Homo sapiens: one gene and its partners. The protein of the gene in region 1 purifies or fractionates together with the protein of each later gene. This does not show direct contact. Each region holds a gene or a part of one and is shown on either strand. Other genes may lie near its edges.

Evidence for each region.
Region 2: the proteins of PEX14 (region 1) and GNPAT purify together in Homo sapiens (co-purification; one study listed by BioGRID and IntAct). This does not show direct contact.
Region 3: the proteins of PEX14 (region 1) and ATAD1 purify together in Homo sapiens (co-purification; one study listed by BioGRID and IntAct). This does not show direct contact.
Region 4: the proteins of PEX14 (region 1) and TBC1D15 purify together in Homo sapiens (co-immunoprecipitation; one large-scale study listed by IntAct). This does not show direct contact.
Region 5: the proteins of PEX14 (region 1) and OAS1 purify together in Homo sapiens (co-immunoprecipitation; one large-scale study listed by IntAct). This does not show direct contact.
Region 6: the proteins of PEX14 (region 1) and HSD17B4 purify together in Homo sapiens (co-purification; one study listed by BioGRID and IntAct). This does not show direct contact.
Region 7: the proteins of PEX14 (region 1) and IQGAP2 purify together in Homo sapiens (co-purification; one study listed by BioGRID and IntAct). This does not show direct contact.

Annotation. Positions count from the first base shown.
Region 1 is NC_000001.11:10,617,159-10,621,703, reverse strand, and holds part of PEX14 (peroxisomal membrane protein PEX14), read right to left. Parts: intron 3,373-4,545; coding exon 3,287-3,372; intron 1-3,286. UniProt on the Homo sapiens protein: Component of the PEX13-PEX14 docking complex, a translocon channel that specifically mediates the import of peroxisomal cargo proteins bound to PEX5 receptor.
Region 2 is NC_000001.11:231,243,542-231,248,086, reverse strand, and holds part of GNPAT (dihydroxyacetone phosphate acyltransferase), read right to left. Parts: intron 1-4,545. UniProt on the Homo sapiens protein: Dihydroxyacetonephosphate acyltransferase catalyzing the first step in the biosynthesis of plasmalogens, a subset of phospholipids that differ from other glycerolipids by having an alkyl chain attached through a vinyl ether linkage at the sn-1 position of the glycerol backbone, and which unique physical properties have an impact on various aspects of cell signaling and membrane biology.
Region 3 is NC_000010.11:87,751,673-87,756,217, forward strand, and holds part of ATAD1 (outer mitochondrial transmembrane helix translocase), read right to left. Parts: intron 3,136-4,545; coding exon 3,015-3,135; 3' UTR 1-3,014. UniProt on the Homo sapiens protein: Outer mitochondrial translocase required to remove mislocalized tail-anchored transmembrane proteins on mitochondria.
Region 4 is NC_000012.12:71,919,382-71,922,953, forward strand, and holds part of TBC1D15 (TBC1 domain family member 15), read left to right. Parts: intron 1-1,331; exon of another isoform or gene 1,332-1,349; coding exon 1,350-1,466; intron 1,467-1,986; coding exon 1,987-2,073; intron 2,074-3,572. UniProt on the Homo sapiens protein: Acts as a GTPase activating protein for RAB7A. Does not act on RAB4, RAB5 or RAB6.
Region 5 is NC_000012.12:112,916,169-112,920,655, reverse strand, and holds the end of OAS1 (2'-5'-oligoadenylate synthase 1), read right to left. Parts: intron 4,148-4,487; coding exon 3,918-4,147; intron 3,110-3,917; coding exon 2,956-3,109; coding exon of another isoform or gene 2,899-2,955; exon of another isoform or gene 2,060-2,898; coding exon of another isoform or gene 1,943-2,059; exon of another isoform or gene 1,268-1,942; coding exon 1,103-1,267; coding exon of another isoform or gene 963-1,102; 3' UTR 753-962; downstream 1-752.
Region 6 is NC_000005.10:119,528,356-119,532,900, reverse strand, and holds part of HSD17B4 (peroxisomal multifunctional enzyme type 2), read right to left. Parts: intron 3,008-4,545; coding exon 2,921-3,007; intron 1,636-2,920; coding exon 1,497-1,635; intron 1-1,496. UniProt on the Homo sapiens protein: Bifunctional enzyme acting on the peroxisomal fatty acid beta-oxidation pathway.
Region 7 is NC_000005.10:76,703,009-76,707,553, reverse strand, and holds part of IQGAP2 (ras GTPase-activating-like protein IQGAP2), read right to left. Parts: intron 355-4,545; coding exon 241-354; 3' UTR 1-240. UniProt on the Homo sapiens protein: Binds to activated CDC42 and RAC1 but does not seem to stimulate their GTPase activity. Associates with calmodulin.

The DNA of each region.
Region 1 (4,545 bases):
CAAAGGTAGCCTTACACTTCAGGATGAAATGTCCTCAGCAAGAAAGGTAAAGAATTCTTGGCCGGGCGCGGTGGCTCACGCTTGTAATCCCAGCACTTTGGGAGGCTGAGGTGGGCAGATCATGAGGTCAGGCGTTCGAGACCAGCCTGGCCAACACAGTGAAACTCCGTCTCTACTAAAAATATAAAGATTAGCTGAGTGTGGTGGCGCATGCCTGTAATCCCAGCTCCTCGGGAGGCTGTGGCTGGAGAATCGCTTGAACCCGGGAGGCAGAGGCTGCAGTGAGCAGAGATCATGCCACTGCACTCCAGCCCGGGTAACAGAGTTAGACTGTGTCTCAAAAAAAAAAAAAAAAAAAAAAGAATTCATATATGTGTGTGTAACCAACTAAACACCCCATTTCTGAGATCAGAAGTCCTAAGGGCAGGAGCAGACACGCTGCCCTAGCCAAAGTCTTCACGTGCTTATAAAGCCAGTCGAGGGCTTTTTACCATTTCTTTTTTTTTTTTTTTTTAATTTCGAGAAACTGAGCAGATGCTTTAGAAATTCTCTTGTTACCATTGTGACTGATATTGCAATGTTTCTTTTCTTTTTAAAACAGAGCGGAGAGCCCAGAGCTTCGTAGAAACTACAAGTGGCAGCTCCGTGTGAGTGCCCACGCTAAGGCGGGCTGCCGAGCTGCCCTCCCGCTCCCGTCAGGCCACAGGCCCTCCATGGGTGGCCATGTGACAGTGCCTACTGCTCATTACAGCCAGGGCATTCATCTGAGGACTCTGGCGTTCGTGTCACATTCTTCTTGGTGCTTGTATACAGTCAGTGATTTGAAGGGGGCACCAGTTCAGAGGGAGAAGAACCGGGTCCCAAGAGGTGTTTTTGTTCTGTTCTGTTTATTTATGTATTTATTTGAGACAAAGTCTCGCTCTTTCACCCACGCTGGAGTGCAGTGGCACAATCTCGGCTCACTGCAGGCTCACTGCAACCTATGCCTCCCAGGCTCAAGTGATTCTCCTGCCTCAGCCTCCCAAGTAGCTGGGATTACAGGTGCACGCCATGACACCCAGCTAATTTTTGTATTATCAGTAGAGACAGGGTTTCACCTTGTTGGCCAGGCTGGTCTCAAACTCCTGACCTCAAGTGATCCGCCCACCTCAGCCTCCCAAAGTCCTGGGATTACAGGCATGAGCCACTGCGCCTGGCTTATTTTGTTTTTTAAATTGAGACAGGGTCTCCTTCTGTTGCCGAGGCTGGAGTGCAGTAGTGTGATCTCAGTTCACTGCAACCTCCACCTCCCGAGCCCAAGTGATCCTCCCACCACCCTCAGCCTCCCGAGTATAGCTGGGACTACAGGCTCACACCACCATGCCTAGCTTATTTATTTTATTTTATTTTATTTTATTTTATTTTATTTTATTGTTTGGTAGAGACACAGTTTCACCATGTTGGCCAGGCTAATATCAAACTTCTGGGCTCAAGCAATCTGCCTGCCCTGGCCTCCCAAAGTACTGGGATTAGAGGTGTGAGCCACGGCACCTGGGCCAACCCAGGATGTTTTGTTTCTCAATTTCTTTTTCTTTTTCTTTTTCTTTTTTGAGAAGGAGTCTTGCTCTGTCACCCAGGCTAGAGTGCAGTGGCATGATCTTGGCTTACTGCAAGCTCCGCCTCCCAGGTTCACCCCATTCTCCTGCCTCAGCCTCCCCAGTAGCTGGGACTGCAGGTGCCCGCCGCCATGCTGGGCTAATTTTTTGTATTTTTAGTAGAGTCGGGGTTTCACCGTGTTAGCCAGGATGGTCTCGATCTACTGACCTCGTGATCAAGTCAGGATCCTCAGCCTCAGCCTCCCAAAGTGCTGGGATTACAGGCGTGAGCCACCGCGCCCAGCCCTTGTTTCTCAATTTCTAACATGGAAATGTCCAGCTCCAGGAATACATGCTACACTTAAAAAATTATATTCTGCTACAACTGTCATTAGCTTTTGTATTACATCAAAAATGAAGAATCTGGAATACCATGGCTGACCATGTTTCATGTGCTAAGAGTGACCATGGCGAGTCTGAGTGCTCATTCAGGTTGTTTAAAAAAGAAAATCACCAGCCGGGCACGGTGGCTCAAGCCTGTAATCCTGGCACTTTGGGAGGCCGAGGTGGGCGGATCACCTGAGGTCAGGAGTTCGAGACCGGCCTGGCCAACAGTGAAACCCCATCTCTACTAAAAGTACAAAAATTAGCCAGGCATGCACCAGCACGCCTATAATCCCAGCTACTCAGGAAGCTGAGACAGGAGAATTGCTTGAACTCAGGAGGCGGAGCTTGCAGTGAGCCGAGATCATGCCACTGCACTCCGGCCTAGGTGACAGAGCGAGACTCCATCTCAAAAAAAAAAAAAAAAAAATCACCAATCAGGGGTGGAGGAGCTGGCAGCCTCGAAAGAAAAGAGGCTTCTCTACAGGGTCCCAAGATCTGGACTGGGCACCTACCCTGGCCTGCATTTTCTAGACTCTAGACTCATTTGCTTCACGTCCAAGTTGGGCCTTCACAAGGGAGTCAATGTTCACGTCATGCCTGCAGTTCTGTTGCAAGCAATGAACCTGGGATCCTGAAAGTTGACTTGAGAAGCCTGGGAAATCCTAGATTTCTATAGATGGCAGCACAACAGACAGAGCAAAAAGAACAGCTCCCATACATCTGATGACACTGAGGTTCTCACCGCCGCTCTTAAATGCTGTGGCAGAACAATGGTGTATAAAGCACTTCCATGTGCCGGGCATGGCTCTGAGTCCTCTACAAGGGAGACTGACTCTTCCGGACTTCACGACAACCTTGTGAAGTGGGGACTGTTATTCCCATTTTACAGACCAGAGCCTGTGATCACCAAGCTCCTGAGGGGCAGAGCCAGGGCTCAGCAAAGCAGCTGGCCCAGCGTCCATGCTCTTCGCCATTATGTTATTCTGTGTCTCAAAACTGCTCGCACGGCTTCCCCGTGCGGGCACTACTGTAAGTGCCTGACATGGGCTGGCAAGGGACAGACCTCACGACGCCCCTGCAAGTGGAGATCTGGGTGGTATATGCTGAGCACTGGAGAAAAGGTGGGCAGAGCCTGCCAAGCCCCACAGCAGGGCAGGGTCTGCCTGGATCCAGCTGTGAACCCCGACCTCTACCACAGCCTCTCACTGCCAACACACTCCAGGGCAGAGCACGGCAGTGCCTCCATGCAGGGGAACCAGTGAAAGGGTGCTGAATGCCACAGGGTGGCAGGGGCACAGCACCTGCAGCCGCTGGGGGTGACTCACCTTGTAGAGCTGGTGAAAGCCAAATGCAATGCCTGCCATGATGATGGCCAGGGCGCCGTAATCTCGCCATCGGGAGCCTGCGGGACCTACAGGCGGGAAGAGGAGGAGGGTTAGAAGACGCACATGGCGTCCTTCTTCGGGTGGGGGCTGGCACAGGTGCCTCAGTGGCACAGTCTCCTCGCCTCCAACAATGGGCAAGTGGAACACTCCAACGCAGGAAGGCAGCACATGATCATCACAACAGCAGCCGGCTCCACCCCTCCTGTTCCCACTGCCTCAACTGGGACACAAGGGATGCCAGTCACCCAACCCTGACTGCAGGCTGTGGGTGGAGGTATCTAGCAGTGAGCTGAGACCTGAGTTGGCAGTCAGGTGGCAGAGGTGATCTGAAGACCAACAGCATGGTCTCTACCTCAGGAACAAAAGATCCAGAGAGGATAACAGGAGTATGTTTAGGGGAGCATAAATATACCCATATATGCCCTACTATAGCTGGCGATAAGCTGGGGGCCACAGCAGAACCAAGCGGGGCCTCAGCGAAGTGGAGAGGGGGACCGTGGTACGCTGGGTGGGGGCACGGGGGTGGGCTGTGGTAAACTAGACCTCCCAGCCCTGCTCTCGCTTGGAGCCAGAGGAGAGAAAACACAAGTCTCCAAATGACTGAGCAAGGCTTCAGAGAATGAGAACGCCTATCAAAAGGGATGGGGGTGGCAGGGGAGAGGGGCTGGGGTCAGCAGGGCCTTGGAGGAGCCCTGAGGCCCTTGGGGGCTGGAGGGGAGCAAGCACAAAAGAGAGACGGTAGGTGGGTGTAGACCAGGTGAGCACCCTGGGCCTGACTAGAGAGGAGAGCTGCTCTGGCCCAGAGGACCCCAAGAGCAGGGTGCTGGGGAGAACGGAGAGGAGCCAAGGAAGCCGCAGGTACAGTGGGGGCTGGGGCGGGGCAGGAAAGAGGTAGACAGGTGGCACCAGGTGGACTGTGTGGTCAAGGAAGCCGAATATTCTTTCCTAAGCAATGGGAATTACTGGGGGATGTGAATCAGGGAGTGCCATGACCCTGGACAGCAGCACTGGGGAGGCTCTGAGGGTGGTCAGAAGTGGGGGCCGCAGAGGCAGAAGAGCTGGGGCGAGCCTGCTGCAAGGGTTCACGAGGTGGAGAGGGACTGGGACCAGCACAGAGGGCAAGAAGGGAGTGGGGCAATGTCTCAGGAGAACACATTGCTGCTGCTGTGAAGGGCAGCCAGTCTTCATGGAAGATCACC
Region 2 (4,545 bases), about 220 Mb from region 1:
CACGTTGTTCAAAGGTCAACTGTACATATATAAACACAGACATGTATGGGAGCGAGGGAGTCTTCAGGATAAGAACCCCTAAGGGAAACTAGCAGGCATGTATACTTTGAAAAAGCTTGCCAAATACGATCATCTACAATCCTTCCGTGGTTCTGTTACTTGCAAGGTGGACTTACATCAAGTCCACCTGTCTTAGCATATGACCCCAGGCTCTTCATGACCCCCCACCTCCTGCCTCATGACCATTCCTCTTAATCCAATAGTCCAGCTATGCCAAGACCTGCAGTTCCCTAAACACACTACGTGTTCCCAGATCTCTGATTCAAGTTGCTCCCTCTACAGAATAGCATTCATTCTCAAATATCTGAATGCCTATGTGCTTGACACTGTGGTATGTGCTGAGGATATAGTGGTGATCAAGAGAGAGACAGTCTCTTTTATGAAGAACAAGGTGGATGGTGGTACCAGTTATTGAGAGGGGCATTTACAAATGCTCCTTCCGCACTGTTCACCTGGGAAATATTTAGCCATCAACCAGAGCTTGTGTTTACCTCTTCTGTGTCCCATATTCTGGTTCTCCCCTTTACCTAGATTGAACAGGTCATCCTTTCCTTTCAGTCTTCACTGAACCCTCAATAATCGGATTTTCAAGATGGTCTCTAAAACACTTCATTAAACTCGTATTTGGTGCCTCCCTTACAAGACTGTGAACTTCTTATCTGGTAGATAAGGTGTCCTATACATTTCTGTACTCCCAGTTTCTAGTATGAACTCAAGCCACTGTAGAATGAAAAAATAAATTACAGAATGAAGTCACTTTTTGAACCCTATCGATGATGGCTCCTCAGTATTCACAGTATAAGGCTCAAATCTCCCCATTCTGGCCCTTACCCGATGTCGAATCCAGTGGTTTTTTTTTTTGAGATGGAGTCTCTCTCTGTTGCCCAGGCTGGAGTGCAGTGGCACGATCTCAGCTCACTGCAAGCTCCGCCTCCCGGGTTCACGCCATTCTGCCTCAGCCTGCCGAGCGGCTGGGACTACAGGCGCCCGCCACCATGCCCGGCTAATTTTTTGTATTTATAGTAGAGACGAGGTTTCACCGTGTTAGCCAGGATGGTCTGGATCTCCTGACCTCGTGATCCACCTGCCTAGGCCTCCCAAAGTGCTGGGATTACAGGCGTGAGCCAACGCGCCCGGCCGAATCCAGTGGTTTTAAACTCAGGCTGCACATTAAAATAACCTGGGGGCACTTCAAAATAAATACTGATATCCAGGTTCCACCTGTAGAGATTTCTGATTAATTTGGTCTGTGAGTGCTGCTCAGCTGTCCAAATTCTTTTTAAAAATACTCCAAGTGATTCCTATGTGCAGCTAGGGTTGAGTGTTCCTGCTCATTAATTGGCCTTCCCTATACCATGCTTGAGAAGTTTTTACTATCATTAAGTAAGTAAATTTACATGGCTACTCACTCAGGAACATAACACAAAGAAGAACCCAAGTAAGCCTTAGGGGAACTATCTCTCCCCCATCTTACTTAGTAGAGCAGGCCTCTCCCTACTGCTAGTGAAATAGGCCTTTCTTATACCTCCCTTTTAACTGCTCTGGAGGATCCACTCATTCAACAGATAGTGACTGAGAGCTCACAGTGTACCAGGCACTGTTTTACAGGCTGTGAATACAGCATGAACAAGGCAGGCAGGGACTGCACTGAGAGCCTACGTGTCCTTATGGAAAGACAGACAACAAATAAACAAGGTAAATTCATTTAGTGATACCACCAGTAGTATGTTGGTCAATGTTTAACCATTTAACGCTTGATATGGGAGAGCTCTGAGTTATAGCATTTGTCAATTTTTGTGGGATATACGCTCCCACCAGGGCAGATTTAAAGCTTCCAATCTGACCCCAGCAAACGCAAAGCTGGGGAGAAATGAGCAGTAGCACACAGTTATACAGGATACAGGATCTCCACCTTCCAGCACGATAGACAAATAATCTCAAGAGCACAGGTAATAGTACAATAATGAGAAAATGTTAAGTTATCAGTATTTATTACCTTTTTTAAAAACAGGATTTAATCGTAAATTTACATAATTTAATATTTAATTTTTTTTTTTGAGACAGAGTTTCACTCTTGTTGCCCAGGCTGGAGTGCAATGGCGCAATCTCGGCTCACTGCAACTTCCACCTCCCGGGTTCAAGCGATTCTCCTGCCTCAGCCTCCCGAGTAGCTGGGATTACAGGCATGTGCCACCATGCCCAGCTAATTTTGTGTTTTTAGTAGAGACGGGGTTTCTCGATGTTGGTCAGGCTGGTCGCGAGCTCCCGACCTCAGGTGATCCGCCTGCTTTGGCCTCCCAAAGTGCTGGGATTACAGGCGTAAGCCACAGCGCCCGGCTATTTAATTTTTAATAATGGCTGTGTTTTAAGAATGGGCTCACAAACTTCATGAAAATTTAACAATCAGCTCTTGCAAGCCAATAGAAGACTGCTGTAGCACACCACTGGAAAGAGAATATAAGGAAAATAAAGCTGCGGTCAGGGCATGGTGGCTCACTCTGTAATCCCAGTGATCTGGGAGGCCAAGGCAAGAGGATCAATCGTTTGAGACCAGAAGTTTGAGACCAGGTTGGCAACATAGTGAGGCCCTGTCTCTACACAAAATAAAAAAAAAAACCAGTCAGGCGTGGTGGTATGCGCCTACAGTCCTAGCTACTGGGAGGCTGAGGAGGGAGGATCACTTGAGCTCAAGAGTTGGAGGTCACAGTGAGCTATGACTATGCCACTGCACTCCACTCTAGGTGACAGAGCAAGATCCTGGCTCTAAAAATAATTAATTAAAAAGCCAAAAATTAACAACAACAAAAAAAGAAAATTAGGCAACTAATGAGGAAAATGAGGAATAGTGATTGGATAGCTGTTTTAGATTCAATGGTTGTGGAAGGCCTCTCTGAGGAAGTGATATTTGAGTTGGGACCTCAATAATACAAAGAGCCAGCAATAAAACTTCTGAGAAAACATAGCATGCCACACAGAAGGGACTATGAGCATTCGAGGGAAGAGCATTTTACTGTCTGAGAAACAGAAGGCCAGGGTGGCTAAAGCCCAGTGAACAAGAAGATTAGTAAAGTCAGAGCAATAGCAGTTAAGAGATCATGTACAGTCTTGTGGGACACTGTAGTAAGGCATCTGCATCTTTCACTTGGACTTTAACAGGAAGTCATCATCTGGATTATGGCACACCAGTGGTTACCCATCCTCAGTCTTCTTTTCATTCTAGGGTCTCACTGAATGATTTCAGGCTCACCGAATGCTATAGATACAACCTACATGCTGAAAAATCTATACATTTAGGCCAGACCCCCTCTCTTGCTCTGGCACCATATTTCTAACCCTACTTGGATCTCTTCCAAACACTATGGAATGTATCTGGCTCATAACATGATAATCCACAAGTTAAAAATCATTATATTTCTCTCTTACATCACAAACTGAACACACCCCAAACTGAATTCTATTACCCTGACCAAACCTGCTCCTCTCCCCATATTTCTTATCAATGAAAGGCATCATCATCTGCCCAGTTGCCAAATCATAGAAACCCAACAGTGAACTTCAGACTATGCTATTTTCCTTAGCCACCACATTCAAATGGTTCCAAAGGATGATGATTTACTGTCCTAAATATCACATAAATTCATCAATTTCCCTTCTTCCTGGGCTCACTGTTACTGCTTCATTACTTCTCTGGATTACTGCAATAGCATTCTAACTGATCTCCACTTTTATGCATCAGATTCCCTACCCAACCTGATTCTCTTCCTACAGTCTCTACTTAGGCAAAACAGGTTACCTATACAGATAATCACACCAGAAACCTATAGTCTTCTCAGACTTTCAAAAATATAAATGTACTTTGGAAGGCCAAGGCAGGTGGATCACTTGAGACCGGGAGTTCGACACCAGCCTGGCCGACATGGTGAAACCCCGACTCTACTAAAAATACAAAAATTAGCCGGGTGTGGTGGCAGGCAACTGTAATCCCAGCTACTTGGGATGCTGAGACAGGAGAATCTCTTGAACCCTGGAGGTGGAGGTTGCAGTGAGCCAAGATTGTGCCATTACACTCCAGCCTGGGTGACAGAGTGAGACACCATGTCAAAAAAAAAATACATATACACACATATATTTATATATATATGTGTATACACACACACACACATAGATGTAAGATTAAAATCTCCCATAAAGTTAAGATTTTATCCCTAAGGATATGTAAACACGACACATAAAATTTCTTTAGGAAATATCTGCCTACTTCCTTACTTTGTTTCTCATGTCTCCTTTCTTCCACCCAAATCTAACTAATTCTAACCCCAAATATGCAAGGGAGTAGTTTTTTTTACATCAACATCTAGGACAGTTTTCCTCTCCCTCATCTGCCATTCACAGCTCAAAAACTCAGCTCATGCCAGGCACAGTGGCTCATGCCTGTAATTCCAGCACTTTGGGAGGTGAGTAGATCACTTGAGGTCAGGAGTTCAA
Region 3 (4,545 bases), on another chromosome or scaffold:
ACAAATTTAATAATGAAGGCTCTGAAAGATTTCTGTCAGCTCTAGATGGAATTATTCTATGACTTCATTTGAAGCACCCAGTTGGTGCTGGAGTTTCAGCCATGCACTATATATATTCAGCATATCAGAATTCTGTTCAATATTCTGATTTTAAGAGAAGCTAAAAAGAAACATAAAATATACATCATCCAATTTATTTTCTTTATCCAGAAGAAATCTGTTAACATTTTCCCAAAATAACAATTCAAGTAAAAAATTCCTACCAACGAGATGATGTTGCCACCATTTTTACACAAGCACACTCACGGCTTGAGACATCCTCATCTAGCATTAAACCTGTAAGTTACAGCTACTAAATAATGTTAAGCTATTATGATGCATACAGAATAGAGTACCCCAACCCAGCTCTTAATGAATGCTGGGTTTACCTGCAGGTAGGGGGTTGGCTGAGATTAAAAGGAGAAACATAGTAAAGGAGATACTAAATTGATTCAAATACTTCATTTCTAAACTCTACAAAAAAGGCCTGAGAATAGCTTGAGACACATCAGACTTATCAAAAGTCTTCCAGCAATGATGCTTTTAGAGAAACATGGCATAAATGATCCTTTCAGTCTCAATCCCTGGAGTACAGGCCTAGGGATTATGGAACTGGTTTAAGCATGGAGAATGCTTAAAGAATGAGCCTGGTCAACAGGAAATGTACATCAGTGTGCAAAAGTGACAATATTAATACGACAGCTAACATTTGAGCAGTAATTCTGTGCCAGGCACTATGCTGAGGGCCTTACATGCATTATTTTATTATCCAACCCTTTAAGATGAGTGCCACTGTTGCCCCATTTTACAGATGAGAAACTGGGCTCACAGACACACAGTTAATGGGGAGCCTGAGTTTAAATTCAGGAAGCCTGATTCTAGATCCAGTACTCTGAAGTATTACCCAAAATGAATTATCTTAGAATCTAGAATTCAACTATATGTGAAATGCATGTCTAAAACAGAAGGATAGATGTTACATAACACTAAAAGTTATTTAAAAATCAGGAAAATAGTTTCCTGAATTACTTTATGGTCTTAACATGCCTAGATGAGTCATAGTTGCTGGGATTAGTATACTTCTCTAACTTCATTTGATGATTAAAACCACGAAGAAATTGAATAACCACTCCTACTGGATATTGTGAATTTAAGAGAAGACAAAAAGAAAGGACATGTGGAGGTATACATTACTCCTTATTTTCGATTAATATGTCACCAGATTAAAATTAAATTACTGAAATTCATATTAAAACAGAAATGACTAGATACTAGGATATGTGCTATAGAAGTGTGAAAACTCCATAGCAAGATAAAGTCTAAACACAAGTTTTATAAACCAAAAAAAATCCCAGAAAACTTAAAATTACTGAAAAAGACCAAAGATTAAGTGGAGAACAACCAATAAAGAGGGACCCCTTTATTACACATTTATAAAATAATAGAATATAGTTATTAAAAATGGGACACTTTTTTTCATTTTTGGTATCTTGTATTCAGTTTTTCCATCCTCTTCACAATCTTCCATAACTTGCTTTTTGTTATCCATTGTTCACCTGAAACTTCCACCCCACCATTCAAAGTACAACTGAAGAATAAACGATCTAACAGATTCTTGTGAGACACATTATCAGATAAATTAATCCAGTGACACATGAATAAAGATTTAGAGTTTTTAAAGAAATACAGTAAAAGCAAAAACATATGAAGCATAATTTAATCTGATGATTCAGAAGGCACCTCAAGATTGTGTTGTGCCGTTTTCCTCATGCTGCGTGGTTAGGTGCCTATAACAGAATTCTGGTTAGTAAAATTTTGAAAAAAATTCACATATAATTCACATTAAACGACTACAGATAGATACAATATGGGCATTTTGATGTGTACATTTGTACCTGACTTAGGGCACAATTTATAATAATATACTAAGAAAACTAAAATTAATTATAAAATGAGTATTTTTAGCACACTTAGTAACAGCTACTTGTTTTAAACTATTATTTCATTTTTGGTGACCAAATTATATTTGACCATAATTAAAGAACACATAACCTTAAAATAATATTTAAGAAACATAGTTACAACAGACATGTTACATTAAATGAAAAAAGGAAAGAAATGTACATGTATTAAAGGGTACTGAGGTTTTTCAAACCCATTCTTTTGAAAGGCCTTTTAATCCACTTTCATGTAAACCAATTTAAATTTAAAAAGTTTATACTCAAGAGGTGAAATCAGTGTTGAGCACATGGCTGCCTAACAACCATTCAATGCTGATCACTGAACTAGTATTTTCATTTGATTATCCTGACAAACATAATAATTGAGCCCATGTATATATGCAAGATGTGGAGGATCCAACTAATAACTGCAGAAATAAAAACACTCAACTTAAAAAAGGTTGAAACAAATGACAAATGGAAATGGCTGAATCACTGTACCTTTTTGACACAACCTTAAATCTTAGTTTTACTATATATTATTTGGTACTCCTGGATTCAGTAGTTGGGGTAAAAAAAGTTTCTATATTCAAACATATCTACAGAATGTCAATATAAAATGTGTGGATATATACATTTAATATACACATACATACACGCACACACACAAACGCATACTCACATGTCTAGGAACCAGCACCTAACCACATCCCCGTTTCTCACTAATGACCCAATGAATCATTTATGACTTTAAGACCAGCTTAGATTCTATAAGGCTGTACAATATATGGCTGAAAAGGTCAAACACAAGCACCCACGTTCAGGCTGGATTCAACTGTTCCTCCTCATGATTTTTGACCAACAGTAATACCACCTATGTAACAACTATATCTCAATAACTTAGAATTCAGAGTATAAAACCATAAACACTGAGCTCCCTCATTGTTTAAAGAGCACTCTTTCCGTTCTATTTCCACTAACTGATAAGAGGACACACCAAACTAGATCACTGAACTGTACAAATGATCTTTACTCTTAATCTAAACAAACATGTGTTAAAACATTCTGAAATGCTGCATCCTTTGATTTCTTCATCTTTTCAATTGCCCGATGCAGGTCCTGCTGTTGAACAGGCCGAATTTCATCTTCGTCATGGCTAAAATGCAAACAAAACCATCAAATACTCAAATAACTTTAGAATATGCCTCCCTAAAATATTTTACCAAGATTTAAAAGAGATGCATGTGGTAAAAAAAAAATTTTGTTTTCAACTGTAGAAAAGGGTATAAAAATGAAATCTCTTTACCATTCAAGACCCCAAAGACAACCACAATGAACAGCTTCATGTAAATGCTTCCAGGAATTATCTACACATAGAGAAATCATAAGGAATTTTTTAAAAGCACTGAGTGCTAAGAAGTAGGAAGCTAAAATAGCTACAAAGACTTCACATCTATAAGTACACAATATTACCATAAGGTAAAAAATGTTATATGGTTTATTGAAATGGGAATATAATTCCAATTTAAAAAATCACGTTATTCCCATGAAAACTGTAATTAAAAAGTAGCATTTCTAGGTATATACTTACATGCATGTTTTGCTTTTTACAAATTGAGAGTAAAATTCTTCACTATCAGTAAAAATCAACTAATCCAAATCCTCCCTACTTCAATGAGAAACAAAGTCCAGAATATTATGGCTCCCTTGTAATTTACAGATATTCAGGGAAAAACATTCAGGAAAAAGTTATAACCCAAGTCCATCCAGATTTTTCATACTGAAATATAAAATTATAAAATATGAAATTCAGGAAATATAAAACTAGCCAGACTTTTCATACTGAAATACAGTTTTCAGGGCTTTGAGGCAGCAAAAAAATAGATCTTTCATTATTAGTGTAATTTACCTAAGCAAAATTTACGAACTGGTTGGTTATTTCTCCTCTTAATCTTATATATAAGAATAAAAACCTGGCCAGTAGCGGTGGCTCACACCTGTAACCCTAGCACTTTGGGAGGCCAAGGCGGGTGGATCACCTGAGGTCAGGAGTTCGAGACCAGCCTGGCCAACATGTCGAAATCCCGTCTCTACTAAAAATACAAAAATTAGCCGGGCATGGTGATGGGCGCCTATAATCCCAGCTGAGACTGAGACAGGAGAATCGCTTGAACCTGGGGAGAGAGGTTGCAGTGAGCCGAGATCACACCACTTCACTCCAGCCTGGGCAAAAGAGCGAAACTCCGTCTCAAAAAAAAGAATAAAACCTTTGGAAGGTAGATTCTGAGGGTGCACTAACGATGATGAGACCAGAGCCACTGCATATACAGCTACCAGTTGACAGAGTAGCTTTCATGCAGACCTTTCTATATCAAAGCTCGCAAAACATTTTTTTGCTGAAGTTTGCTATGGCAACACACTGCAATTAAATATATGAATACCACAGGCAAGGAGTGAAATCCCTAGGAAGGTGAGGAAGGGAGACCAAGAGACAAAGGGACAAGAGTTGGAGAATTCCTTTAACACAACCCCTAAAAGTACACTGGAGTTCACCAAGAATCACAGA
Region 4 (3,572 bases), on another chromosome or scaffold:
TTGATCATACCTTAGGATAACAGAAATTCTTCCAAGGAAAGAATTGGGAGATAATCCATTTTGATTGTAAATCCAACTTTATACAGTGGAACTCTAGTGGTCTCTGAGGTTTTTACAGCTGGAAATGGATTCCTATACTATTGATGGCTGTGCTACCATTAGACAAGGCATTGTGCTGATTACAAGTTAAAAGTGGATTACTTTATGCTCACTTCCTCTGTTCTCAGATTAGAAGTAAAACCCACATGGTCTCTATCTGGAATCGTACTTAAATGTTTATCAGTTTTGTTAAATTAGTGTCTTAATTTGGGGGTTAAAAATGGGTTAATGTATTTATGCCTAGTGTTCCATTATTGGAACGCTAAGCATGTGGGAGTTGTTTATATCCTACTGCTCAAGGTCATCACCAAGGTCTGATTGAAAAATTCAAAAAATTGCATCCTCAGGCATAAATGGGTTTTAAAGGATGAATTAAGAATATTATTACCACATAGCTAGAATAACTCCTCAATCTGTGTTTACTAAATAAATTCAAACTTTTAATGAAACCTTTGAGGTTAATTGCATTGTAATTAAACTTTCAACAATTGGGTTTAGTTTGAAAATTATTCAACTTGATTTACTCCTTTTGAAAGAAGTAAACACATTTCGGGTATGATCTCATGGTATGGTTTGTGTGGGTGTTTTTATCTTTGTGGAAAATATATTATTAGGTACATGAAGCAGGGGGAAATTAAGACCCTAAATTCGAGGATATTATCTGTATTTAGGAACAGCTGAGCTGTTGATCAAGCGTTTTCTATGTTTGGTTATAAATTTGGGGCAGTTAATTCAGTTATTGTCACAATCAGGGATAAAATGTGATACAAGGGTTTTACGTATTTAGAATGTAGAGCTACCTCTGGGTGTTTCTGATTCCATGTACTGTGTAACTGAACCTTTTTTTATTTCCAGGACTTAGCTTTAGTCTTTTCTCAGATCGAAGTGAGAAACTGATACTTCAGAAAAATATTGAAAATACATCTAACCCTTACACCTTAACCTTGTGTCTGTAGCTCCTGCATTAATAACATTTATCATACTGGTTAGGCTCAGTAATTTACTTACTATAGTTACCTTAAAGAGCCACATTTAGAATATATCATATTCATATAAACTCGATGATAGTTACTTTGTAGCTGAAGGTAAGACTCTCCTTCCCCTCATTTCCTAGCTAGAAAAACCTTGGGCTACCCTAAACAGGCAACATCTACTTTGCATAGAAGTCATTCAGTGTTCAGAATTGTATCTGTGAGGAAAATGTTTTAGAATTGATACAATTTGCAAAATAGTTCTTCTGCCTTCTATAGGTAATGTGGACCGAACTACCATGTACAAATTTCCATCTTCTTCTCTGTTGTGCTATTCTGGAATCAGAAAAGCAGCAAATAATGGAAAAGCATTATGGCTTCAATGAAATACTTAAGGTAGTTATTCCTTTAATTCAGATTTTAGTGTTCTGGCTTTTCTATTTGGTGGTCCTGATATACAGAACGTTTCCTTGGAACATTATTAAATCTCTTGAGTAACTTAAATTGTGTCAATAACAGTGCTAGGAATGACTATCTGAGAATGACAGTTCAAATACATATTGGCCAGTTATTTTTACCTGGCTAATTAGGAAGAAAAGGAAATTCAACAAGTGCTCTTTTATGTAGTTTAGTTTTTCAAAAATTAATTGTCTTTTGATTATAACTTTGAGATATCAGACTTGGAATAGCTGCTGGATTTAATGTTCCATAAGCTTATTAGCTAGTCTTTAGCTTTAAAACTTGAAATAATCTAAAGAAAGATATATTGAATTTCTTACGTATTTGTAGTATATGAATGTTTTTATTTTAAGGATTTTATCTGCAGTGAAATATAACTGGTAATAAATTGTTTATATAATAGAATATAATAGTGTATTCAGTTTCGATATCATTTTATTTTGTTGATACTTTTTAGCATATCAATGAATTGTCCATGAAAATTGATGTGGAAGATATACTCTGCAAGGCAGAAGCAATTTCTCTACAGATGGTAAAATGCAAGGTATACAGTGTTTCAAGTAATTGCAAGATTTGTTTGTTTTTGGTGGGTTGAGATCAAGAAAGATTTTTCTTCTTGGAAATAAAATAGCAACTTTAGTAAGCTGAGGGCAGGCACAAAGTATTGGCTGGCTTTTTGTTTGCTGTTCTAGATTTACAGCACTTAATTGAAAACAGTTGACTATGGCAGATAGGAAACAGCTAATAATAAGGCAAAATGGTAAAAGTAATGAAAATATTTCTATAACAAAGAGGCTGTAGAATTTCAGCAATGATATATTACCCAGTTGAGCTCATGAATGCAGAATAGGCTGTCATATTAAATATGCAGAATCTCTAAACAAAAATGAATGCTAATCAGAAATAATTAAATCAATATTATTTAGCCTGTGTCACTCACTTATATTAGTCAAGTTATTAATTATTTTAAAACAAGGCAAATTTGATGTATTATCTGAATTTGAACCAAAGCAGTATACTTTTGATGTGTTTTAGCTTTTTCTTTCTATTAAGAGAAAGGGCCTTGCTAAGTTGCCCAAGCTGGCCTTGAACTCCTGGGCTCAAGTGATCCTCCTGCCTTAGTTTCCTGAGTAGCTGGGATTACCAGTGCATGCACACCACTGTGCCCACCTCATGACTTTGCTTTTTTTTTGAGACAGAGTCTTGTTCTGTTGTCCAGGCTGGAATGCAGTGGCGTGACCTCGGCTCACTGCAACCTTCTCCTCCTGAGTTCAGTCGATTCTCCTGCCTCAGCTTCCCGAGTAGCTAGGATTACAGGTGCCTGCTACCATGCCTGGCTAATTTTTGTATTTTTAGTAGAGACGAGGTTTCACCATGTTGGCCAGGTTGGTCTAGAATTCCTGACTTCAGGTGATCCACCCACCTCGGCCTCACAAAGTGCTGGGATTACAGGCGTGACCCATCACGCCCGGCCATGACTGCATTTTTTTTTTTTGATACTTCAAGTTCTAGGGTACATGTGCACAACATGCAGGTTTGTTACATAGGTATACATGTGCCACATTGGTTTGCTGCACCCCTTATGACTTTGCATTTTTATGAAAATTCTTGCTTGGTCCTTGTATCATTTGTTCATTGATCCAAACTGTTACTTGGTTCAGTTCTACAAACATTTATTTGATACCTGTTCTCTTCCAAAGCATGTCAATGAGATACTTCTTGCCTTGAAGAACTTTGTTTACTGAGAGAGACAGATGATCTAAGAAAGATATTATTACAAAAAGTAGAAAGAGATAAATGCCAAATATTAGGACATGCTATGTTTGTGGGAATGTGGAGGTGGGATGGAGAGTGACTAATTTGGAAGATATCCAAGAACCACTTAGGGCGAAAGGTGGTTAGCATTTCATTTGGAGCTGAGAAAAATGTTGTGAGAAGGGTACATGACATTTACACTGTTAGGACAAATGCTCAGATTCTGGAATCAATGTAGTCTTAAACAGAAGTGTTACTTTGTGGTTATTTTTCCTCTGTAGTGAAATA
Region 5 (4,487 bases), on another chromosome or scaffold:
TCCCAAGGACAGTGTGACAATGTGGCAATGTAAGTCAGTATAGTCGAATCTTTAATCCAGTGATTTACCTTGGAGGACAGAGCTGTCCAATAGAAATACATAATATAACACAAGCCACATGTATGATTTCACATTTTCTAGTAGCCACAATTAAAAAGGGAAAAGAAAGAGATGAAGTTCATTTGATTTAACTCAAATATATTTAAAAATTGTCATTTCAGCACACAATTAAAAAAATTATCAGTTGGCAAGAACTTGGCATTCTTTTCATTTGTACTAAGTCTTTGAAACCAAGTATATACCTTGCACTCACAGCACATGTAGATTTAGACTAGCTACATTTTAAGCATTTGATACATGTGGCTAGTGGCTGCTGTGTCACACAGGGAGGTTCTATAATTTTTCTCAGAGATATGGAGAAAGGATAAATCAAGGATGCTTATTTCAGAATTATTAGTAATAGGAAAACCATCTAACATTAAGATGTTTTGCACAAATGTCAACTCCATGAGGACAGGGATTTTTTTATTTAAAAAATTCTGGAAGTCTTGGCTCTGCAGGGTCATGAGGACAGGGATTTCTGTCTGCTTTTGTGCATTGCTATATTCCCAGTGCCCAGAGCTATGCTTGGCACATAGTAAGTGCTCAATAAATATTTCTTGTTGAATCAATGTATATACACACACAATACCCCTAGATATGCATCTGTACTTCTTGGCTCTGTGCCTTGAAGTTAATAAACACCCAATAAATGGTATTTGCTTTATTTTTATTGTTATTGATAATACATTAGACATTACCCTCCCATCAGGTGCACAGAAGAAAGTCAAGGCTGGAATTTCATTCTCTTATCTAAATCTCTCTGTTCTCTCTCAGGGAATATTTTCAGAGAATAGGTGGAATGAAGTGAGGCTGTGGAGAATGTTATCTATGATAGGATAGAGGGCATAGAAGGCCAGGAGTCAGGAGACCTGGGTTCTGTCCTGGATTATACACCAGCTCACTGAGGAGCTTTGTCCTCTCTGGATCAAGAGTCCCACCTGAAAATGAAGGAACTGGTCCAGATAACACTGGAGCCCTTTCCCCCAAGATGCACTGGCATTCAGAGGATGGTGCAGGTCCAGTCCTCTTCTGCCTGTGGGGTGGATGCTGCCTGGAGTGTGCTGGGTCTATGAGAGAAATGAGGGTACTCATGTGTTCCAATGTAACCATATTTCTGATACCTCCTGGGATCGTCGGTCTCATCGTCTGCACTGTTGCTTTCAGCCTGAAAGGGTGAGACACATGATCACATCAGGGAGTCTTCCTGCATTGCAGCTGGATTCAGTGAGCATTTACGGTAGACACTGTGACATGCCATCTGGATCCCCCTTTGAGGAAGGACTAACAAGCCCCAGCTGCTGGGACAGTGGTCAGCAGACAGACTTCAGCCGTCAGCCCTTTTAGGGGTTGCCTCAGCTGCAGAGAGCCTTTTGCTCAAAGCCATGCCCTTTCCCAAGGTGCCCAAGCACAGTGAGTGATCCACGTAGGGGTATAGAAGCCTGGCCACCTCTGTCACCATGGGGCAGCTCTAAAGGCCATTCCAGCTCCAGGGCTGTCCTTGGAGTTGGCTGAAACTGGCATTCGCTCTGCATCCCTGTTCACTTCTCCCTATTCTCTTTCATGCTTCCTTCCTATCCTTTCTTCCCCCCTTTCCCTGAGTGCTGGTTCCAGTGGCTCTCCCCCAGAACATCCTGCATACTAAATTCCATCCTGGAGTCTGCTTCCTAGCCATCTGCAACATCATCAATCCCCTGGAATCAGACAGATTCCTGCTTGGAGGTGGAAAGATCCAAGACTGGGTCCTTTGCCCCTGTTTAGCTGTGTGACAACCCAAGTCACTCAGCTGCTCAGAGTCTCCCATTGGTCAGATGAGAGGTGGGGATGTGACAAGGCAGGCTGTTTAGCACAGTGACATGAGCACTGGCTTTAGAGTCCACTGAGCTTGAATTCCATTTCCACCACTTGTTAGCTGATGTCCTTGAGCAAGTGACCTCACCTCTCTGAGCCTTTGTCTCATCTGTAAGATGGGAATGATAGAAAACATGCCTCATGGGACTTTTCAAATAACTAAAAGTAGAATGTCCATTCAACCCAGCAATCCCACTACTCGGTATCTACCCAAAGGTAAAGAAATCATTCTATCAAAAGACACCGGCACTCGTATGTTTATCGCAGTACGATTCACAATAGCAAAGTCATGGAATCAACTTAAGTGCCCATCAGTGTGAACTGGATAAAGAAAGTGTGGTATATCTACACCATGGAGTATTATGCAGCCATAAGAAAGAATGAAATCATGGTTGCAGCTGGAGGCCATTATCCGAAGTGAATTAACCCAGAAACAGAAAATCAAATACTTAACATCTGCTAAAGATGGGAACAATAGACACTAGGGACTCCAACAGGGAGGAGGAAGGGAGAAAGGCAAAGGTTGAAAAAATTCTTTTTGGGTACTCTGTTCACTATTTGGGCGACAGGATCAATAGAGGCCCAAACCCCACCATTACACAATATAGCTGTGTAACAAATGGCACATGTGCCCTCTGAATCTAAAATAATAAAAAATTTTTAAAAATGCCTCATGGGATTGTTGTGACTATTTAATGAGAGAGTGCATATTAAAGGGCTTAGGACAGAACCTGAGCCCGAAGCAGACAGTCAATAAATGGTGTTAGAGATTATTTATTATTACTCTTAGGGGAATGAATTCTGGACAAGGGATGTGAAAATTCCAGAAACCCTCGATTGTGACCAAAATGACTGTAAAATATGGAGCACAGCCTGTCACTATATGAATATAAATGGCCTTTGGCAAGAGGTAAGTTCTTTGGAAAGAATGGTCTCCAGCTATATGTCTCAAGCTTCATGGAGAGGGGCAGGGATGAATGGCAGGGAGGAAGCAGGAGGTCTCACCAGCAGAATCCAGGAGCTCACTGGGGACCCATCCCAATTCTTAAAGCATGGGTAATTCAGCCAGGCCTCAGCCTCTTGTGCCAGCTGCCTCCAACCCTTTGGGTCTCCACCACCCAAGTTTCCTGTAGGGTCCGCCGGGTCCAGGATCACAGGCCTGCAGAGCAGCATTTAGAGAGGGACAGGTGAGAAGCTGGGGCTCTGTCTAGGGAGTCCAGATGCTCCTGGGAGAGCAAAATAGCAGCATGGGATGAACTGGGACTCAGAACATGAGGAAGGGCTCCCTGGGGTATGTCCCCAGTGCCCTATTCCCCAGCAGGCAGTGAGCATGAGGAGAAGGAGCCTTGCACTTGCACCTGACAGATGTGGGTTTGAATCCCACCTCTGCCCTTTATCAGTGATGTGCCCTTGGGTAGGTCACTTGAACTCTCTAAGCCTCAGGATTCTTATCTGTAAAATGGGAATAGTTCCACATACCTATCTCAAAGGCTATGCTGTGAGGATAGAAAAAGCCCAGTTATATGAAATGCTCAGCACAGCGACTAGAACATAACATACATATCAGTAATATTGCTAATAATTTTTACTATTATATTAGCATGTGTTAGTCTTACAACAAGCTTTCAATACCTGGGAGCAATTACTATCATTGTTGTTGCTGCTGTTCTTATTTCAGTTCAAACTGCAGCTATTTTACTCATTTTCTGTTAAGGGTTGGACAAGCTCCTTACCTCTCAGAACCTCAGTTTACTCACCTGTAAAATAATTGGCATAGTGCCTGCCTCACAGGGTTGGAGGTAGGTGTTTAAAACAGATGGCAGTAGTAAAATGCCCAGTACAATGATGGGCAACAGGAGATTCTCACTAAGTGGGGAGCCCTCCCACCTCCTCCATTTCCAAGGCACTGTACCTGTATCCAGGTGTTCATTTACATAGGGGAGCTAAGCCATGTGGGGATAGCATACCTGGGTTTCGTGAGCTGCCTTCTCAGGTACTTTTCAATAATGGGGTTTTTAAAGTCATAATACTTTGTCCAGTAGATGCAGAGTTGCTGGTAGTTTATGACTAATTCCAAGACCGTCCGAAATCCCTGGGCTGTGTTGAAATGTGTTTTCATGCTCCCTCGCTCCCAAGCATAGACCGTCAGGAGCTCCAGGGCATACTGAGGTGGCAGCTTCCCAAGCTTCTTCTTACACTGAGAAGAGGAAAAACAATCAGAAAAAAATTGGTTTGCTCAACTTTTGTGTAAACTACACTTCTCATGGGCCAAATCCAGCCTGCCACCTGTTTTTATAAAGTTTCCTTGGAACGAATCCAGGCTCATTCATTTATGTATAGTTTATGACTGCATTCATGCTACAAAGGCAGGGTTGAGTAGTTGCAACAGAGGCTGTGCAGTCCACAAAGTCTAAAATATTTACTATCTAGCCTTTTATTTTTTAAAAAAGTGTACTGGCCCCTTGTTAAGAGCGCTGGATTCTTATTGATGTGGGTTTGAATCCTGGCTTCACCATTGTCCAATTCTAAGTAGATGA
Region 6 (4,545 bases), on another chromosome or scaffold:
CACACTTCACCACCAGTGAATCATGAGAAAAAAAACTGTTTATTTTTAGAGCTTTTTGGTTTCTGGAGTTTCAGATAAGAGTACCTATGTTTTAATTTTCAAGAGCAGACTATTCTGTAGGCCACATAAATCCTCTGATTCTTTATCTCCCTTATGCCTTTATGTCATCTTTCATTTCCTCCGATTTTTTACCGTTGCTTAGAACAATAAAATAGGATTCAAAGGGTTTACTACAACAACTTCTGGCTGGGTTTAGAAATTAATAGTAATAAATACTATAAAATATGTTAGTTATTTATGAAATATCTCAGTATCATATTATACTTACATATTTCACTCATACTAAACAAAAAATAAACATCACTATCCATACAATAAACATTATTTTAATAGAAGGTAAAGCATCAATTTCAGAACCTTTTTTTTAAAAGGCAGCCATACTATTTTCTAAAACTATGCTTTCTACATGGCTTTTAGCACTCATTCCAACATATACAGAATCAGGCTAGTTATTATGTGTTATTGACTATACTAGAAGCTAGAAATAGACAAACTGCAGCCATTTCTCAGGATTAAGCCCAAAGTCAAATGAGAGAAAACATACAATTATAAATGACCATAATACAGTAAGATAACTGTGACAAGCAACAGACTCTGCTGAAAGGGAATTCAGGGACTTACTGCTCTACCTCCTATCCATTTTCATCTTTTCAACCTAATTGAAGAATCTCTAGGAAAATAAAGGTGAGGTTAGAATATTCCATAATTAAAGTGTGTGCCATGATTAAGGATGTGAGTTACACAGCAGATGCAAAAGATCTGACAGAATATTTTTTCTTTATTCTTTTTATCCTCTAATTTCTCTTTCTTCACAAAATGGTACCAGGGTCTCTTTGGACCTCCACATCAGTGAAAAGAAATATGACTGCTTTCTTTCTGCGGCAAGATGTTTTATATTGGGTGCATGGCACTCTAATAGATAATTTCCCTAGATTAGATAAACAAACACCTTTGACCATAATCTGTATATATCTAGAAAATAGTGATTTTATATTGATAATTAAGATAATCCAAATTATTGTTTTGGTATGAATAAAATAATTTTGTAACTGTCAAATATCATGACTTAAAAATACTTCATTTTGACTTGATGAATTTGCCTTATGTTTAAGAAGCTGAAGATTAGATAAAGATGCATATAGCCAAGATGACTGTTTAAACTACTTTCAAGGATTACAATGAAATCTTAAAACAGGTTATTTTCATTTCAATTGATTCCCTACATCTCTTACACACACACACAAACACACACACACACACACACACACACACCCCCCTTTGGACATTCCCAAACCTATTCATTCCCACGGGAAAAGAAAAAAAACTTACCTAAAAAGGTAAGATTTACCTACCTTCAAAGGTCTTTAATTGTTAAAAAGATACTTTATTTACTAAGAATTACCTTAGAATATTATAAAATCAGGGCTATAACTTACTCCACTTAGCCCCAATATTTCCGCCTTTGGTTATATGCCACTCAAATACAGCATTTACTTTCTTCACCACCTCAGGCCCAATATCCTTTAGGCGGCGTCCTATTTCCTCAAATACAAAGGTACTCTGAAGCTTCCCGCCCTAACAACGACAACAAAATAAACTTTAAAAGTTCTGTAAAAATAACTCATGGAGAAAAGTGATTATAAAACATGTGCAAAAAAAAGATTTTTTAAAACTCTGTACATAAGTCAGTTTTCTTCATACAATGTGTCTTTCATACTTTCTTATTTGTATACATCACTCAGAACCTCAGTCCTCTTAATAACAGGATTTTACTTTTATTAGAATTCAGAAATAATATTTTAAAAGAAAAATAGGAACTGGACAACCTATGTTTTAGCTAACTTTAGAAAGATCCTGATCAAATTAATCAACTTCTATGGTCTCATTTTTTTTATTTATAAAATAATACTAAATTACATGAAGTCTGAATTTCTTTACAGCTCTAAAACTTAAGTTTTGGGTTTTTTTTGTTTTTTGTTTTTTTTTTTTTTTTTTGAGACAGACTTGTCGCCCAGGCTAGAATGCAGTAGTGCAATCTTGGCTCACTGCAACCTCCACCTCCCGGGTTCCCGTGATTCTCCTGCTTCAGCTTCTTGAGTAGCTGGGATTACAGGAGCCTGCCACCAAGGCTGGCTAATTTTTGTATTTTTAGTAGAGATGGAGTCTCACCATGTTGGCCAGGCTGGTCTTGAACTCCTGACCTCAAGTGACCTAACCACTTCAGCCTCCCAAAGGGCTGGGATTACAGGCGTGAGGCACCGAGCCCGCTCTAAGTTTTTTTTTTTCTTAGACTATTCTTAAGGGATTTTAATTTTCAGTCAGTTATATGGTTTATGACAGACAATTAAAGATCATGGGTATCGAAACCTCAACATTACAAAGTTAATATTTCAGAGATAGAATATAAACATTTTTATCAAAAGTCTCAGCATGCTAATAAATAATACAATGTTTTAATAAATTATACACGCTGCTGGTTTATATATTTGCATACAAAACTTTATATAAACCTTTAAATCAAGAAAAAGGTACAGGATATTCAACTTTTTAATCTATTTTTCTCCAAAACGCTGTTTGCTTAAGATTCTGATTAAACAACTGATTTATTTATTCTAAAACTAGAAAATTATGTTCTCTTGAAAGATATCCTAGTATCCTGCAAAACGAGTTTTTTAAAGTTCATAAATTGCCAGAGTATTCCTTCTATTCCAAGCTGTTTTGAATTAATGTTTTTCACTTCAAGAATTAAGAATAGTTTCATGGTTGTTAATTTTCTAACGTAGCCTAACCACTCTTAAAGTCACCTTAACTGAAATTCCTAAATGAGGAAGTGGCTTGGATACTAATTTTTATAACCTACCTCAGAGGGTGTCTTAGCTGAAGTACCAGATGTTGGTGCAAGATCCACATATGCATTTGAAATGACAATGTCTCCAGTTTCTTGGACCTTAGGAGGAGAAGAAAAAAAAAAGATTTATTCTGATTACAATGGAAGTGTAATTTCACTGTGAAACAGTACAAAGTTTAAAATTTATTATTTTTGCCTCATATGAAAAAGAATATAATAATCCAGATAAAATAAAAGGCTGCTAAAGTAAATGTCAAGATGAACAAACATAAAGGCTTTCTGATTTAATACAACTGTTACTAAACCTGGCTTTATAATCAGCTGGAGCCCTTTAAAACAAACAAACAAAGAAACCCTATGAGGTCCCATCCCCCAAAATTCTAATGTAAATACACTGATAGAGACTGGGCCTTGGTATTTTGGGCATTTTTTGGGGGGGAAGTGGGGATCAGGGGATGCACTCTTATAAACAGAATTCAGTCCATGCTGAATCCTTATAAATAGTAAAAGGCATAGCACAATAGCCACATGAGGTAATGGTACTCAAAGTACATTTGTTCTGCTAATATAGAATAAAATTGGCTAGGAACAAATCATAATAGTGTTTTTTAAGTAGTAATTCCAGGTCTTATTTCAAGAGGAAGTGTACACAGCATGAACTAAATGTCTAAATAGGCTTTTATCAAAATAGTCATTAAAGGAATTCAAATTCTAATTCCCAGTCCTTCATTTCAAATTATTCCAATGGCTATTCTTTCATAAAAATTGTTATTGCTACAAATGTATAGGATAAGTTTCTAAAGTTTAACATAGCGTTTATTAAAACTTTGATTTTTAACAATCAAGAAGATCATTCTCTTGACTACATCTCATCATATTTTGGAGGAAAAAAGATCTTTCAAGTAATTTGTTCACTTTACTTCAAATTACATACATTGAAAAGCATGGAAAGAGATAATTAATGAACAAAATGCACTTCAGTAAATTACTTTATTGTTACCAAATCAAGCAAATCATTTTAAAACACTGGTTTAAAATGTTTCTTATATCTTAAGAATAGAAAGGAAAGGAGGAAGGGAGGGAGAAAGTGAGAAAAGGAGGCAGGGAGAGAAGGAGTCCTAAAACTAATAGAAAAAGAATATCTATAATCACTGAAGAAAAATATAGCAAATATGCTGAAAAGATAAGACAGCATGCTTAGAATTTAACAAAATGGCAAGAATACATTATATTTAGACATTTAATCATTTCTCAGCCCTTCAAGTTTGTATCCATAGAAATTATTTACATACTATTCATCACCAGAATTGCAGGAAAATAAAAACCTGTAATATAGTCATGGTCCTTAACACTTTTAGAGTTCATAATCTTAATCAAAAAGCAAAACTTACTCATACAAAACAAATTAGAAAATGTGAGGGCTCCAAAATATGTGGCACAGATATTAGCTGCAAAGGCTTTCAGAGAACACCAATTTGAGTGTATCTATGGGTAGGAAAGTGGGGAATAGTAAGAGACTGTCTCTAAGAGCAAAGTGGAGCTTGAACTTAAGCCTGAAGGACAGGAGGAATTTGAAAAGTAAAATAAACAATATGTACAAATTAAGCAGGAAAATGATATTGCAACCAGCAGAAAGG
Region 7 (4,545 bases), on another chromosome or scaffold:
AGTACCTATATCACAGTACAGTGTGGATATGTTTCCATTAATTCATTTTATGTCTCATTCTATTATAGTATCAAATTAGCAAAAAGGCACCTGGGTACATTCTTCAGAACAGTTTTGGTCGTTTTAAAAAAATCACACATTTATAAGCAGTGATTTCAATCATGTTTAAAAACAAAAATATTAAACAAATTCATTTCCTAATCCAGATGATACAGAATCCAAGAAATTTCTGTAGGCACTTCACTTTCCATAGAACTTCTTGTTCAGCAGGTATATGAGAAGGTTTACATTCACTTTAACCTTATCAAACATTTTCATTACAGCTACTCCTTCATATTGCATCTGAAGTAAATCCTGAAATTGTAAAAAGCATCATTAAATCTCAACTTTGACATTTTGTGCATTTAAAAAACATATTAGAAGAATTTGTTGACAAAAGTCAGATTCAATTGACCTAATCACCTGGGTGGGGTCTAACTATGTTGCCCAGGTTGGTCTCAAACTCCTGGCTTAAGCTATCTTCCCACCTCAGCCTCCCGAGTAGCCAGGACTACAGGCGCATGCCATGGCACCAGGCCATAGATGGGGGTTCTAAAACTTAAGTGTACATCAGAATCATCTGGTTAAAAACATAGGCTAGTTAAAATAAAGGCTGCCTGGGCTCCTCCCACAGGAATTTCTTGTTATGTAGCTCTCTGGTGGGGCCCATCAATTTGCATTTTAATAAATTCCCAAGTGATTGTGACTTAGATGAAAGAAAATAGCTTTTTGGAATTGATAAGGGCTGTATGAAAGTAAATGATGATCATTAAGTTAATGTCAGATATATAATTTCAATTTTTAATCGAAAATGTTAAAACACAAAGTTCTGGCTAGATGCATATTCTTTAGAAAGCAGTGTTTTCTGGCTGGGTGTGGTGGCTCATTCCTGTAATACCAGCAGTTTGAGAGGCTGAGGCAGGTGGATCACTTGAGGTCAGGAGAGTGAGACCAGCCTGGCCAACATGGCGAAACCCCATCTCTACTAAAAATACAAAAATTAGCTGGGCGTGGTGGTGCACACTTGTAATCCCAGCTACTCAGGAGGCTGAGGCAGGAAAATCACTTGAACAGAGTAGGCAGAGATTGCAGCGAGCCGAGATTGCACTGCTGTACTCCAGCCTCAGCGACAGAGAAAGACTCTGTCTCAAAAAACCCGAAAAACAAAAACAAAAACAAAAACAAAAACAAAAACACAGAAAGCAGTGTTTTTTTAAAGTGAAGTGAGCAAGACATTCACTGGGGAAGCAAAAAGAATATTAGAACTCCTATTTCTATTTATTTTTTCTCATTTTTTGGACTTTTTTGGTATATAATACAGCACGTTTTAGAGTACAATAGCAGAAGCATGTATACTTTACAAATAACTATGTATGGAGAGAAGTGCTCATACTATTTCCTGATGAAGTGACCAAAGTTTGGAGACCATTGTACAAAGCGGTGGTCCGCACTTCTTGAACTAGGCTACTTCTGTTTCTGTACTGAGAACAAGCCCTCATTCTTAAGTCGAACTGTCATTCTGTTTTTCACTGCCAGCATATAAACAAAGGAAATCAACTCTCTTTTTAAAATAAGTAACTGGATCACACCAGCCATATGCATGAAACTAAGCTGTAACATTTCATAGTAACATAGGTACAGGAAGCCTTTCCCAATGGAAGATATAATTCCTGAGCTGTCCTGGCCCAATATCTAAGTCTCATTTTCTTGTTTCTAGCAAGGTCAATTGTAGAAGTTGGAGTCATCTTTGAGAGAACTCTGACTCTTGGCAGCTTCCTCCTCCACTTCCTCAATTACCTCTCACTGCACTTAAGAAAACCCCTACATTATTCAGATATGCTTCTAGAACTAAAATTCTATAGGGAATTGAAGTCCTTTCATCAATAATACTTTTAGCTATTTAGAGTGTAGAGGAGATTCACTTTTCCTCTGGGAAATGCAACATCTGTTAAACAAAGTCTAGTGGAAAAGAATTAAACCAATAGAGTTAGATTGAAAAGGAATGGCATATGTAGGGGAAGTAGCTGGGTCCCCAAAGTAGGGAGCAGAGAAAACATGGCTGGACTCATGACTTGAAAAGCAGACTTTAGTTTTAGCTCTGCCATTTGCTATCTTAAGACCTTGCAACATGACATAACTTCTCTGAAGTTCTGTTTCCCTGTGTGTAAATTGGGGATAACACTGCCAATTTCACAAGGGTGCTACTGGGAATGAGATATGAGATTAAGGTATATGCAAACCCTTTGTAAGCTACTCTTGTCTTGCAGGATCAACTGGAATCCTATGAGACAGGCAGTGGACTAGAGTGATGAAGAACTTGGATCCCAGCTGCATTATCTTCCATAATTATCCCAGCTAATTATCTTCCATAATTAGCTGTCTGAACCTCAGTTCTTCATCTAGGAGAGGAAGAAGGCCCACCCTGCAGTCCCCGATAAATACCTGACATTATTTTTACAAGAAGAATATATATCACATAAGTCATATCCTCCTGTTACCTATATGGCCTATAATTATAGGATATAATTCTATCCTATGGTTTTCTTTAGGAACTGAAGGGAAAATGGGCTGAAGATAACCAAGAGACATAGAGCTGTAATGTTAGAAGGGGCTTTCTTTAGTCCTTTCAAACTTTGGTCCTGTTCCTGGTCCTTTACTCACAGTAAGGACCTGGCCATCACATTTCTCTTTGACAATTTACACATTCATGCAATTGACTGAAAGCTGCATATATAAATAGAAGTCTGCCTTTACATCTGACAGCTATCAAATGCAGGGCTGGCTCCGTGGGTATGCAATCTGTGCAGCCGCACAGGGTCCCATGCCCAGGGTTTTATTCTCTTCTGTCATCATCCTAAAATCCTTAATAATTTTAAAAACAGGGCACTGCATTTTTATTTTGCTCTGAGCCCTGCTAAGGATGTAGCCAGTTCTGATTATGCACTACTGATTTAAAAAACCCAGGACATACTGGTCACCTGCATATAGCTAAGGATTAACATTTCACAATCCATTATGTGTATAAATGAATGGTATGAACAGCTAATCTTACTGTATACAGAATCCTTAACAAAGGAACAAGTGAAGCTTGGTTTTTATACCAGTACTCAAAGGAAGTCTCATGGAATTATTGCTTTCTCTCTAAACACAATATAAGGTGTCTCCTGGTCACTTGTGACTCATTGGTCCAGTTGATATTGACTGGCCCTGGATAATTTCCTTCTTGGCAATCACATATGTCTTTTGCTATTTCTACAGAGGAATCACTAACCAAAGGGTATCACCACAAGCACCTTCTTTTCTCTTCCTGTATTTATCTGTTACACAAAATAACTGAAGACCCTAATTAGCTAAATTATTAAATGGATACATTTAGTGACATTTAAAGTAAGTTAGAAAACAATACTGTTTACTTAATTATACTTTCAATAATTACATAATAGCTTTCATCTTATCTCCGAATTCTAATTTACTCCATTATCTCAATGTCCTTATCAAACCCATTCAGCTCCCGTTTTTCTTTTAAACTTACAAGGGCTGCCAGAAAAGAAGGGCTCTGGCACACACTCCCATGATGGGGAAGTAATTCCAGTGCATGGAGCCCTGGGCTGCACAGACAGTGAGGCCAGAATTCACATCACTCTCAGGATCTTAGTGAGATGATTCATGTAAACATATGCAAAATACCTGGAAACCATTTTGTAAGTAGTTTGGGGCCCAGGTAAGATGTTATTTCCATTTAAAAAGTGTTACATCAAAAAAGAAAAATAAATTACTTCTTTAAATTGGTTTTGTGCTAAGGATTAAGAAGTTGGGGGCAGATGAACATTTGTTTGCAGTGCTCTCTTTTTTTTTTTTTTTGCACAGAAACTGGATTTCTCGGTTTTCATTTACGTGTATTTGGCTTAAATGTGGCTCTTATGATAAAATAACGATAATTTATATTGCAAACACCATTTTTCTATGTATAGATATCTGTTTTGCATAATGCCTTTCATTCCTGTGATCCCAAGCATTTGACAAATAGAGTTAATAAATTGACGTAAAAACTATTCTAGGGGCCAGGTGTGGTGGCTAATGCCTGTAATCCCAGCACTTTTGGAGGCTAAGCCAGGCAGATCACTTGAGCCCAGTAGTCTAAGACAAGCCTGGGCAACGTGGTGAAACCCTGTCTCTACAAAAAATACAGAAATTAGCCAGATGTGGTGGTGTGTGCCTGTAGTACCAGTTACTCGAGAGGCTGAAGCAGGAGGATCGCTTGAGCCCAGGAGGTTGAGGCTGCAGTGAACCATGATTGTGCCACTGTATTCCAGCCTGGGCGACAGAGCAAGACCCTTTCTCAATGCCCCCCCCCACCCCCTCCCCCCACAAAAAAGAAAAACCATTCTAGGAAAGAGGGAAAAATGAGATCATGAAAGTTCCAGTCCTGGGCATACATGCCACTGTATTCCAGCCTGGGCGACAGAGCAAGACCCCTTCTCAATGCCCCACCCCCACCCCCTCCCC